2 separate regions of the Homo sapiens genome follow, and region 2 is linked to region 1. Evidence: fine-mapped expression QTL. A gene starts in region 1. The other region holds a variant in brackets. All regions are shown on one strand. Distances are from middle to middle. Region 1 holds the start of LZIC (leucine zipper and CTNNBIP1 domain containing). Region 2 has its middle 12 kb from the start of SLC25A33.

Region 1 (5,372 bases):
TTTTCTTTCTTTCGTTCGTTCGTTCTTTCTTTCCTCTTTCTTTTTTTTTTGATGGCGTCTCACGGTCACCCAGGTGGAGTGCAGTGGCATGATCTTGGTTCACTGCAACCTCTGCCTCCTGGGTTCAAGTGACTCTCCTGCCTCGGTCTCCCGAGTAGCTGGGAATGTAGGTGCCCGCCACCACGCTCAGCTGATTTTTGTACTTTTAGTAGAGATGAGGTTTCACCATGTTGGCCAGGCTGGTCTCAAACTCCTGACCTCAGGTGATCCGCCTGCCTCAGCCTCCCAAAATGCTGGGATTACAGGTGTAAGCTATCGTGCCTAGCCTTTACCTTTTTTTTTTTTTTTTTTGAGATGGAGTCTCACTCTGTCGCCAGGCTGGAGTGCAGTGGCACGATCTCGGCTCACTGCAACCTCCGCTTCCCAGGTTGAAGAGATTCTCCTGCCTCGGCCTCCCAAGTAGCTGGGATTACAGGCACGCACTACCACGCCCAGCTAATTTTTGTATTTTTAGGAGAGACGGGTTTCACCATATTGGCCAGGATGGTCTCGATCTCTTGCCCTCGTGATCTGCCTGCCTCGGCCTCCCAAAGTGCTGGGATTACAGGCGTGAGCCACCGCACCCGGCCTTTACCTTTTCTTTATACACCAGCATCCAGCACAATCTTGGACAGACAAAAAGTGCCGAATAAACAACTGGTAGATGAATAATGAGAATTGATTGCTTCTTCTTTAGCATTCAAATCTTTTTTTTTAAAATTTTTTTTGAGACGGAGTCTCGCTCTGTCGTCCAGGATGGAGTGCAGTGGCGCGATCTCGGCTCACTGCAACCTCAGCCTCCTGGGTTCAAGCAATTCTCCTGCCTCAGCCTCTCCAGTAGCTGGGACTACAGGCATGCGTCACCACATCTGGCTAATTTTTGTATTTTTAGTAGAGATGGGGTTTCACCATGTTGTCCAGGCGAGTCTTGAACTCCTGACCTCTGGTGATCCACTTGCCTCAGTCTCCCAAAGTGATGGGATTACAGGCGTGAGTCACCGCGCCCAGCTCAAATCTTATTCTCTATTTAGCACTTATTTCTGCCTTTAATTATATATGATTTTATTATAATACGTTATCTCCTCTGACTAAACTCTGGAGAACAGAATATGAGTCTGATTCCTCTCTCAGCTTTCTCAGTACCTAATACAGAATAGAACGTCGATAATTTGGTCACGTATATAAAGGCTCAACATATTTTAAGGAGCTAAAGCTATTCTGAATACATTTCAGTAAAAATGGGTGCATTTTAAAAGCCTTAACCTGGTACTACATTAGTTGAGATTTATCCCCGAAAGATTAACTCGTTGGCACCACCTAGTAGTCACTAAATGTGGTGCACTTTTCACTTTTACGAAACTACAGAAACCGCTCTCAGACACTATATCTGGAGCGGAGGGTCCTCATTCATGCTCACCTGTCTCTTAGTACTCTGATCTCTGCACAGTGCCGACCGGTCTCAAATTGCACAAACCTCCAGTTCTTGACGTTCCGAGTGTCATAAACTTGAGGAAAATGAAATTATTCATCAGGACTACAAAAGGCTCAAAGTTCAAACCACCTCGGGGTGGAGATGCTGGAAAAAAGGAAACCATTAACAAGTAATTTTATTTGCTATATATAAACTTGCCCTAAGGCAGTCCAGATAACTTCCACTTGAGCAGCCTGAGACATCAAGGGCGGGGGCACTTTCCCCCTCGACTGCGCCTACCGCAGCCTTTCTGAGTTTCTTCCTAGCGAGGCCGAGAGGGTCTTTGAGGAAAATCCCGCATCCGGACACGCCTTGAGGGATGGCGTCAAACCCAGAGGCTTGGAAAAGGTAAGGGCGGAGAGCACGCCTCTTCCTTGAAAGTGAGGAGGGTTTGGCCCAGAACCAACAGGACTGGGTGAAGAATCAGCTCCGGCCACCGCAGCAAATCCCACCCCACGCGGGAACTTGAAGTCCGGCACGTAGGTCCCGCGGCGGCCGGGCTCCAACAGGCCCCAATTGCCACCAGAGGTAGCCGTAAACCCATGGTCCCCGAAACTCCTTCCGGGCCTACCTGACAAAAACTGGGACAACCTCCTTAGGCCCCCGGGATTCCCCCTGTGCCGCCTGACCGCCCGCCAGTCCCAGAGTTTAGGGCCAGGGGCCCCGCCTACCTGAGGGCACTGGCCTGGCGGACCGCGCCGGGGGAGCACTTCCGCTGGACGCACGCACTTCCGGCCCCCTGGAACCAATGAGAGTGCGACCGAGATGTTCCACTCGCTGGCGTCCGGGCCGCTGGTGATCTCCGGTAGCACTCGGGCCGGCGGACAGTGAGGGCGCGGTAAGCTCCCCGCAAGGAGCCCCTGAGAAACTGGTCGCTTTTTGTCCTAGATATAGGGGAGTCCAGGATGGTGTGGTGGAGTCTTTAGAGTCGAATATGACCCGAGGCAAGCTCATATTCAGGTTTGGGGCAAGGAGCTTTGATTGACCCTTAATTTTTTCAGTGGAACGGAAAACTTCGGTAAAATAGCTTCTGACCTTCGGAACAGATGGATTCACCTTGGAAAGGAAAAATCTCTTTCTAGAAGAGTCTTGAGGTCTGGCACCTTTAGGCTTAACGGGGGACGGCTGGGCGTCAGAGGAGGAAATCCTTCATTCCGAACGACTTCCCTTTCCTCCTAAATCCTTCTTTCCAAATCTGTAAAAGACTACATCTACTTTGCTGGAGGTGGTTTGACACTCATGCTCCTTGAGAAGGAGGTAATGAGCTGTAGGGCAGCTCTTAAAAAGTTACCCTTGGACGGGCGCGGTGGCTCACGCCTGTAATCCCAGCACTTTGGGAGGCCGAGGCAGGCGGATCACGAGGTCAGGAGTTCGAGACCAGCCTGGCCAACATAGTGAAACCCCGTCTCTACTAAAAATACAAAAAATTAGCTGGGCGTGGTGGTGGGCGCCTGTAATCTCAGCTACTCGGGAGGCTGAGGCAGGAGAATCGCTTGAATCCTGGAGGCGGAGGTTACAGTGAGCCGAGATCGCGCCATTGCACTCCAGCCGGGGCGACAGTTCGAGACTCCATCTCAAAAATAAAAATAAAAAAAAGTTACCCTTGGCTGTCGCGGTGTGACACCTGTAAACCCAGCACTTTGAGAGCCCGCGGTGGGAGGATCATTTGAGCCCAGGCTGGGCAACATAGCAAGACCCTCATAACAAAAAATTAAAAATAAAATTACCCAGAAACTGGTTGGAACTATTTAATGATGTTCTTAGTCCATCTTCCTGAAGTAGTCCACAGAACAACATCAGTGTTCATGGTAGAATTGTTTCATCAGGGCAGTTTTTTTTTAAGTAACAATGTCTTGTTAAAAAACAAGAGCTGTGTTGCCCAGGCTGGAGTGCAGTGGTGTGATCATAGCTCACTGCAGCCTTGAACTCCTGGGCTCAAGCGATCCTCTGGCCTTGGCCCCTCAAAGTGTTGTGGTGATTGGCACAAGCCACCGACAGGCCTGGAGTCTGAAGTTAGTTATATTTCAGCTACCCAGGATAAACTTCTAACTATGATTACCACAGAACTCTACCAAAACTAATTGTTTCACTTAGTTCTGTCTGATTATGGAATCTCTTTATTACCATCAGTTGTTTTTCAGAGTTACAATTTGAATATGAAACCATTTTTCTAGCCCACCTTAGAGAAGACTGTTGACACACTAGTTGAAATGGTTGCAATAGCCTCTACCTTGCAAGACACTTCAGATTCAAAGAATTTCCTTTGCAAAAGTCGGCCGGGTGCAGTGGCTCATGCCTGTAATCCCAGCACTTTGGGAGGCCAAGGCGGGCAGATCACTTAAGGTCAGGAATTCAAAACCAGCCCGGCCAACATGGTGAAACCCCATCTCTACTAAAAATACAAAAATTAACCAGGCGTGGTGGTCCATGCCTGTAATCTTAGCTACTCAGGAGGCTGAGGCATGAGAATCGCTTGAACTCAGGAGGTGAATGCTGCAGTGAGCCAAGATCACGACGCTGCACTGCAGCCTGGGTGACAGAGCAACTCCGTCTTAAAAAAACAAAACAAAACAAAACAAAAGAAGAAAAAAATAAAAGTACCTATTAATGCAATTATCTTTCAATTTTGATTCATAAATATGTGTGGAAGTGTCAATGTTTTGGGTAAAATGGAATTCACAGTGACAGAGTCAGTGCCATACAAAACAAAACTGGAAAATATACTTTAAAAAAATTATTTGAGCTGGGTGTAGTGGCTCACACCTGTAATCCCAGGACTTTGGGAAGCCGAGGTGGGCGGATCACGAGGTCAGGAGTTTGAGACCAGCCTGGCCCCTATGGTGAAACCCTGTCTCTACTAAAAATACAAAAAATTAGCTGTGCATGGTGGCGTATGCCTGTAGTTCCAGCTACTCGGGAGGCTGAGGCAGGAGAATTGCTTGAACCCGGCAGGCGGAGGTTGCAGTGAGCCGAGATCGTGCTCTTCAGCCTGGGCTACAGGGTGAGACTCGGTCTCAAAAAAATAATAATAATAATTTGAAAAATTTGCTGAATAAACATTTGTTCACAGTGTACTTTCCCTGATTTTTTAATTTTTGTTTTTGTTTGCCCTGTCACCCAGACTGGAGTACAGTGACACGAGCACGGCTCACTGCAGCCTTAATCTCTCAGGCTCAAGTGATCCTTGCACCTCAGCCTCCCTAGTAGCTGGGACTTCAGGTGCATGCCACCACATCCGGCTAGTTTTTGTATTTTTTGTAGAGATGAGGTTTTGTCATGTTGCCCAGGCTGGTTTCAAACTCCTGGGCTCAAGTAATCCTCCCACCTTGGCCCCGCAAAGTGCCGGAATTACAGGCATGAGCCACCCCACCCAGCCTTCCCCTAATTTTGATAATGATAATCCAATGTTCTGTTCTGGCATTTGTGTAGTTTTAGCGTGTGCAGTCTTCGAAGCAGTGGAGGTATTTGCCTTTTCTTCTCTGTGACTTAGTCATTCAGCAGTTCTATGCTAAGGGTTTTTTTATATGCCTTTAGGTTCTTGTTTAGAGTTAATGGATAATGAAAACATTTCTAATGCATAAGAGAAATGCATTCTGAAACAAAAATAGAATACAAGCCTTCAGACAGAAGGCAGAGAAGAAACTGGAGAAAGAGAAATAAGATGTTAGGTAGGAAACCATGGGAGACAGCACTGGGGAAAGTAACCTCCAGACTGGGAGTCACTGGGAAACCAGATAAATGCTCCTTGGCAGCGGGAGGAGTTGAGGACACTTCAGCTTGGTCTTGGGATGGGAGCCCAGAGAACGCAAGTTGCTCCAACTAGGTAGGGAAAATGCTGGGACAGATGAAACTTGAGTGGCTA
Region 2 (5,372 bases), 420 kb before region 1:
ATCCCAGCTAGTAGGGAGGCTGAGGCAGGAGAATCGCTTGAACCCAGGAGGTGGAAGTTGCAGTGAGCTGAGATTGCGCCATTGCACTCCAGCCTGGGCAACAAGAGCAATACTCCATCTCAACAAAACAGAAAAACAGAGATCTATTATGAGGGATTAGCTCACAGGATAGTGGAAGCTGAGAAGTTCCATAATCTGCCATCTGCTACCTAGAGGCCCAGGAAAGCCAGTGGTGCAGTTCCAGTCCAAACCCAAAGGCCTAAGAACCAGGGAAGACAATGGTGTAAGTCCTGGTCCAGTCTGAAGACCCAACAACCAGTAGCTCCAATGTCCAAGGGCAGGAGAAGACAGATGTCTCGGCTCAAGCAGACAGTGAAATCACCTTCCTCTGCCTTTTTGCTCTATTGAGCATTGGCCAATGCCCACCCACATAGGTGAGGGTAGATCTTTTTTACTCGGTCTCCCAATTCAAATGCTGATCTCTTCTGGAAGCATACACATACACACACACACACACACACACACACACACACACACACACACACACACACACACACAATGTTTTACCAGCCATCTGAGTACCCTTAGCCCAGTCAAGTTGACACATGAATTTAACCATCATGGGGGCTGAGCATGGTGGCTCACGCTTGTAATCCCAGCACTTTGGGAGGCTGAGGTGTAGCAGGACAAGCTGCAGACAAAACCCCTCAGACACCAAGTTAAAGAAGGCCGGGAGCTTCGGCAAGACTCATGTCTCCAACAACTGAGCTCCCCGAGTGAGCGATTCCTGTCACTTTTAAGGGCTCACAACTCTAAGGGGGCCCACGTGAGAGGGTCGTGATGGATTGAGCAAGGAGGGGGTATGAGACTGGGGGCTGCATACACCGGTAATTAGAAAGGAACAGAACAGGACAGGGATCTTCACAGTGCTTTTTTTTTTTTTTTGAGACAGAGTCTCAAAGCCTGTTGCCCAGGCTGGAGTGCAATGACACGATCTCGGCTCACCACAACCTCCGCCTCCCAGGTTCAAGAGATTCTCCTGCCTCAGCCTCCCAAGTAGCTGGGATTACAGGCATGTGCCACCAAGCCCTGCTAATTTTTTGTATTTTTAGTAGACAGGGGATTTCTCCATGTTGGTCAGGCTGGTCTCAAACTCCTGATCCACCCGCCTTGGCCTCCCAAAGTGCTGGGATTACAGGCGTGAGCCACCTCGCTCGGGCTTTTTTTTTTTTTATGCAAATAACCGATCAGGTCAAGGGTTGATCTTTAACTACCAGGCCCAGGGTGTGGCGCCGGGCTGTTTGTGGATTTCATTTCTGCCTTTTAGTTTTTACTTCTTCTTTCTTTGGAGGCAGAAATTGGGCATAAGACAATATGAGGGATGGTCTCCCCTCTTAGAGGCAGGCAGATCACTTGAGGTCAGGAGTTCACGACCAGCCTGGCCAACATGGTGAAACCCCATCTCTACTAAAAATACAAAAAAATTAACTGGGTGTGGTGGTGCACACTTGTAATCCCAGCTACTCGGGAGGCTGAGGCAGGAGAATCGCTTGAACCTGGGAGACAGAGGTTGCAGTGAGCCTGGCTGGGCTATAGAGCGAGACTCTGACTCAAAAAAAAGAAAGAAAGGAAGAAAGAAATTAACCACACAGGGACCAAAGGATGAATCAGGGCCTTGTCGGTCACTCAGAATTCCCACCAGCTCCAGAATGCAGACTCTGGAACTGAATCTCTTCTGCAATCCTGTCCACACGGTTGGCTTTGTAAGCCGGATTGTTCTCCCCAAATGTGTGGCTCAGCCACGTCTCAAAGTCATGAGGCTTGAATGAAGATTCAGCATATGAAGGAGGATGTATGGAGACAGTCCCTGGACAGAAGGGTAAAACCAGCTTGTCCAGGTAAAAGTCTGTGTCTACATCACACAACCTGCCTGGCCTGGCACCAACCCTGCCTGCTTCTCCATCCCCCACATCTCTCACCCCTGGCTCCCCAGGCTTCAGCCACACGGGCCTCCTTTCAGTTCCTCACACAATCCAAGCTTGTTCTGTGAAAGGAAACTATCTTGGGCCCCCAAAATCACTAAGCTAAAGGGAAAAGTCAAGCTGGGAACTGTTTAGGGCAAACCTGCCTCCTAGTCTATTCAAAGTCATCCCTGGCCGGGTGCGGTGGCTCACGCCTGTAATCCCAGCACTTTGGGAGGCCGAGGCGGGTGGATCACAAGGTCAGGAGATTGAGACCATCCTGGCTAACATAGTGAAACCCTGTCTCTACTAAAAATACAAAAAATTAGCCGGGCGTGGTGGCCAGCGATTAGATGGTGCCCACCCACGCTAAGGGTGGGTCTTCCTGAGGGTGGGTCTTCCTCTCCCAGTCCACTGACTCAAATGTTAATCTCTTCTGGCAACAC[C/T]CAGACATGTTGTAGGAAAATCCCAACACTTTGGGATGCCAAGGCGGGCGGATCACCTGAGGTCGGGAGTTCAAAACCAGCCTGACCAGCTTGGAGAAACCCCATCTCTACTAAAAATACAAAATTAGCCGGGCATGGTGGCACATGCCTGTAATCCCAGCTACTCAGGAGGCTGAGGCAGGAGAATCGCTTGAACCGGGGAGGCAGAGGTTTCGGTGAGCCGAGATCGAGCCACTGCAGTCCAGCCTGGGCAACAAGAACGAAACTCCATCTCAAAAAAAAAAGAAAAAGAAAAATTCAGGTTCTTGTCACACGACCAGGAAAGATTAGGCTCGCAGACACTTTGAAGGGTGAGAAAAATGAAATTTACTGGGCCAAAAGGACAAAAGGGGAAACAGGAACTGTCAGCAAAGCGAGGGTCCTGCTCGTAGGTTTCCCACCTCACAGATTGAATCCCAGGTTACCACCCAGGAACTGGAGAGTCCAGGCTCCTCCCCACTGCAAACAGCCCAAACTTCCCAAGGCTCCACCCCAGTGCGCACTCCTCCCGGTACTCAGGCCGGTTAAAAGATCTCCAGGGAGCCCTTCTTCCTTGGCTGTCTCAAATACACCCGGAAACAATACTTTGCATCCTTCAATCCAATCAAGTTGACATTTAATATTAACCATCAGTGGGTTGGGTGTGGTGGCTCATGCCTGTAATCCCAGCACTTTGGGAGGCCGAGGCAGGCGGATCAAGAGGTCAGGAGTTCGAGACCAGCCTGGCCAATATGGTGAAACCCTGTCTGTACTAAAAATATAAAAATTAGCCAGGTGTGGTCGCGTGCACCTGTAGTCCCAGTCACACTCCTGAAAGTGGCAGAGCATGCCTTGAAGTGCTCAGTGTTCATGAGCTCTGATGGTGAGCATCTCACAGGCCCTCATGAAACCATGCCTGGTAATGAGAACCCAGTGCATCTCCTTCCACATCTGGCTTTCCTTCCTTTCCCCTCACTGGCAACAGATTCACAAATCAGCACGAAGAGAGCTGCACGCGGCAGCTCATGCCTGTAATCCCAGTACTTTGGGAGGCCAAGGACCAGCCTGGCCAACATGGCAAAACTCCGTCTCTACTAAAAATACAAAAATTAGTCAGGCATGGTGGCAGGCGCCTGTAATCCCAGCTACTTGGGAGGCTGAGGCAGGATAATCTCTTGAACCTGGAAGGCGGAGGTTTCAATGAGCCAAGATCGTGCCACTGCACTCCAGCCTGGGCGACAGAGTGAGACTCTGTCTAAAAACTAAAAATTAAAAAAAAAAAAATCAGCACAAAGAGGTTGGTCAAGGGGAAAGATGGCTTACAGGTCGGCTTAACTGATGTCAGAGGAAGAAAGGCTGGGAATGCTCCCTGCCTGGAGTCTCTAATCCATCCTGGCAGTGGGTGGAGCACAGACTCTGGAGCTGAAATGCACTGGTTCAAATCCTCTGTGCCTCAGTCATCTTATTTGTAAAATGGGGACAGTAATAAAATAGTCCCCACTTGACAATGTTGAGGAACAATTGAGTCAATATGACTAAAGCGCAGAGCCGGCACTCTCTGGATGTTCGCTAGGGTCTGGGTCCCTTCTGCAGGCCTGCCCCTCTGTTTTGCTGGGCCTAGAGCGGCAGCACCCCAGCTCTGCCCTACTTAGACTGTGGTGATGCCAGGTCTGCCACCGGAGCCAGCTCCCCTGGGAGGGCAGTGAACAAAGAATAATTTCTAGGCAGTAATGAAATCTTCAAAGCCCCGAGGCTTGCTGGCCCTCTAGAGAGTGTCCTGATTCTGCCTCCTGGGCAATTGGTCTCAGGAAAAAAAAAAAAAACCCCATTGAAAAATGAAAGTGACTTCTCAGAGCCTGAAGCTGCTCTGTCTCTCAGCAGTTCCCTGACGCATGCAGAAGTCACTGCTGGTGACATCAGCTGGAGCCTACGCCTACCTGCATTATCTGCACTGAGCCTCTGGGACTCCCAGCTTTGTTCTTATGTCTTATGTGTTTTGTCTACCAATTACCCTGTTGGCCAGGCATGGTGGCTCACGTCTGTAATCCCAACACTTTGGGGGCCGAGGTGGGAGGATTGCTTGAGCCCAGGAGTTCGAGACCAGCCTGGGCAATAGGTCGGCCGTGTGCTTTCTCTTGCTCCGCCCCCACTCATTCATTGCTTGGAAGCTGCTGTGGGTCCAGATGCTGTGGTTTCTCCCTAGGGGATGGCCACATCCATGGTGATGCCCCTGGCGCAGCACCCCTTGGTATTCAGAGCAGCTGGCGCTGGGTATCAGGCTGAGGAGAGCAACACTCTGGAGACAAGAACATAGAACCCACTTTGTATGCTGAGGATCCTCCAAGTCTCTCACCCAGCAGCTTTTCCAACTGGTAGCTGCCCGCCCACAATCAATGTGGCTTAAACTCACATATATATATATAATTGAGATGGCATCTCACTGCGTTGCCCAGGGTGCAGTGCAATGGTGCGATCTCAGCTCAATGCAACCTCTGCCTCCTGGGTTCAAGCGATTCTCTCCTGCCTCAGCCTCCCAAGTAGCTGGGATTACAGGCATCTGCTTCCATGCCCGGCTAATTTTTGTAATTTTAGTAGAGACGGGGTTTCGCAATGTTGGCCAGACAGGTCTTGAACCCCTGACCTCAAATGATCCACACGCCTCGGCCTCCCAAAGTGCTGGGATTGCAGGGATGATCCACGGCGCTTAGCTGGCTGAAACTCATATTGAGGGCTGGGGACCGAAAACATGACAATGATGGGGCTTCTCCTTACTGGGCACTTTCTCTGGCTGAGGCACAGTTAACGTCTGTAATCCTACCACAGCCCTGTGAGCCAGGTCCTGTTGAGGCAGTTCCATCTGCCCTCAACAGTTTGGGAAACAGATTCTCAGAGAGGCTATGTGAGGTGCCCAGGGTGCTGGGATTTGAACCCACTTGGCCTGACCTAA

Evidence for each region. PIP is the estimated chance that this variant, and not a neighbour inherited with it, causes the effect. A credible set is the group of variants that fine-mapping cannot tell apart.
Region 2: its variant is the best candidate, but not a certain one, in a credible set for the expression of LZIC in testis (GTEx, PIP 0.56).

Annotation. Positions count from the first base shown.
Region 1 is chr1:9,941,168-9,946,539 of GRCh38, forward strand. LZIC (leucine zipper and CTNNBIP1 domain containing) reads right to left here and starts at 2,224. Exons shown (of 8, transcript NM_032368.5): 1 at 2,082-2,224; 2 at 1,457-1,615. NMNAT1 (nicotinamide nucleotide adenylyltransferase 1) reads left to right here and starts at 2,308. Exons shown (of 5, transcript NM_022787.4): 1 at 2,308-2,348. RefSeq lists enhancers at 1,253-1,823, 1,357-2,556, 1,824-2,393.
Region 2 is chr1:9,525,040-9,530,411 of GRCh38, forward strand. No RefSeq gene overlaps it. Among named protein-coding and RNA genes, the nearest start is that of SLC25A33, 12 kb to the right of the region's middle. The variant C/T (reference allele first, on the strand shown) is at 2,408.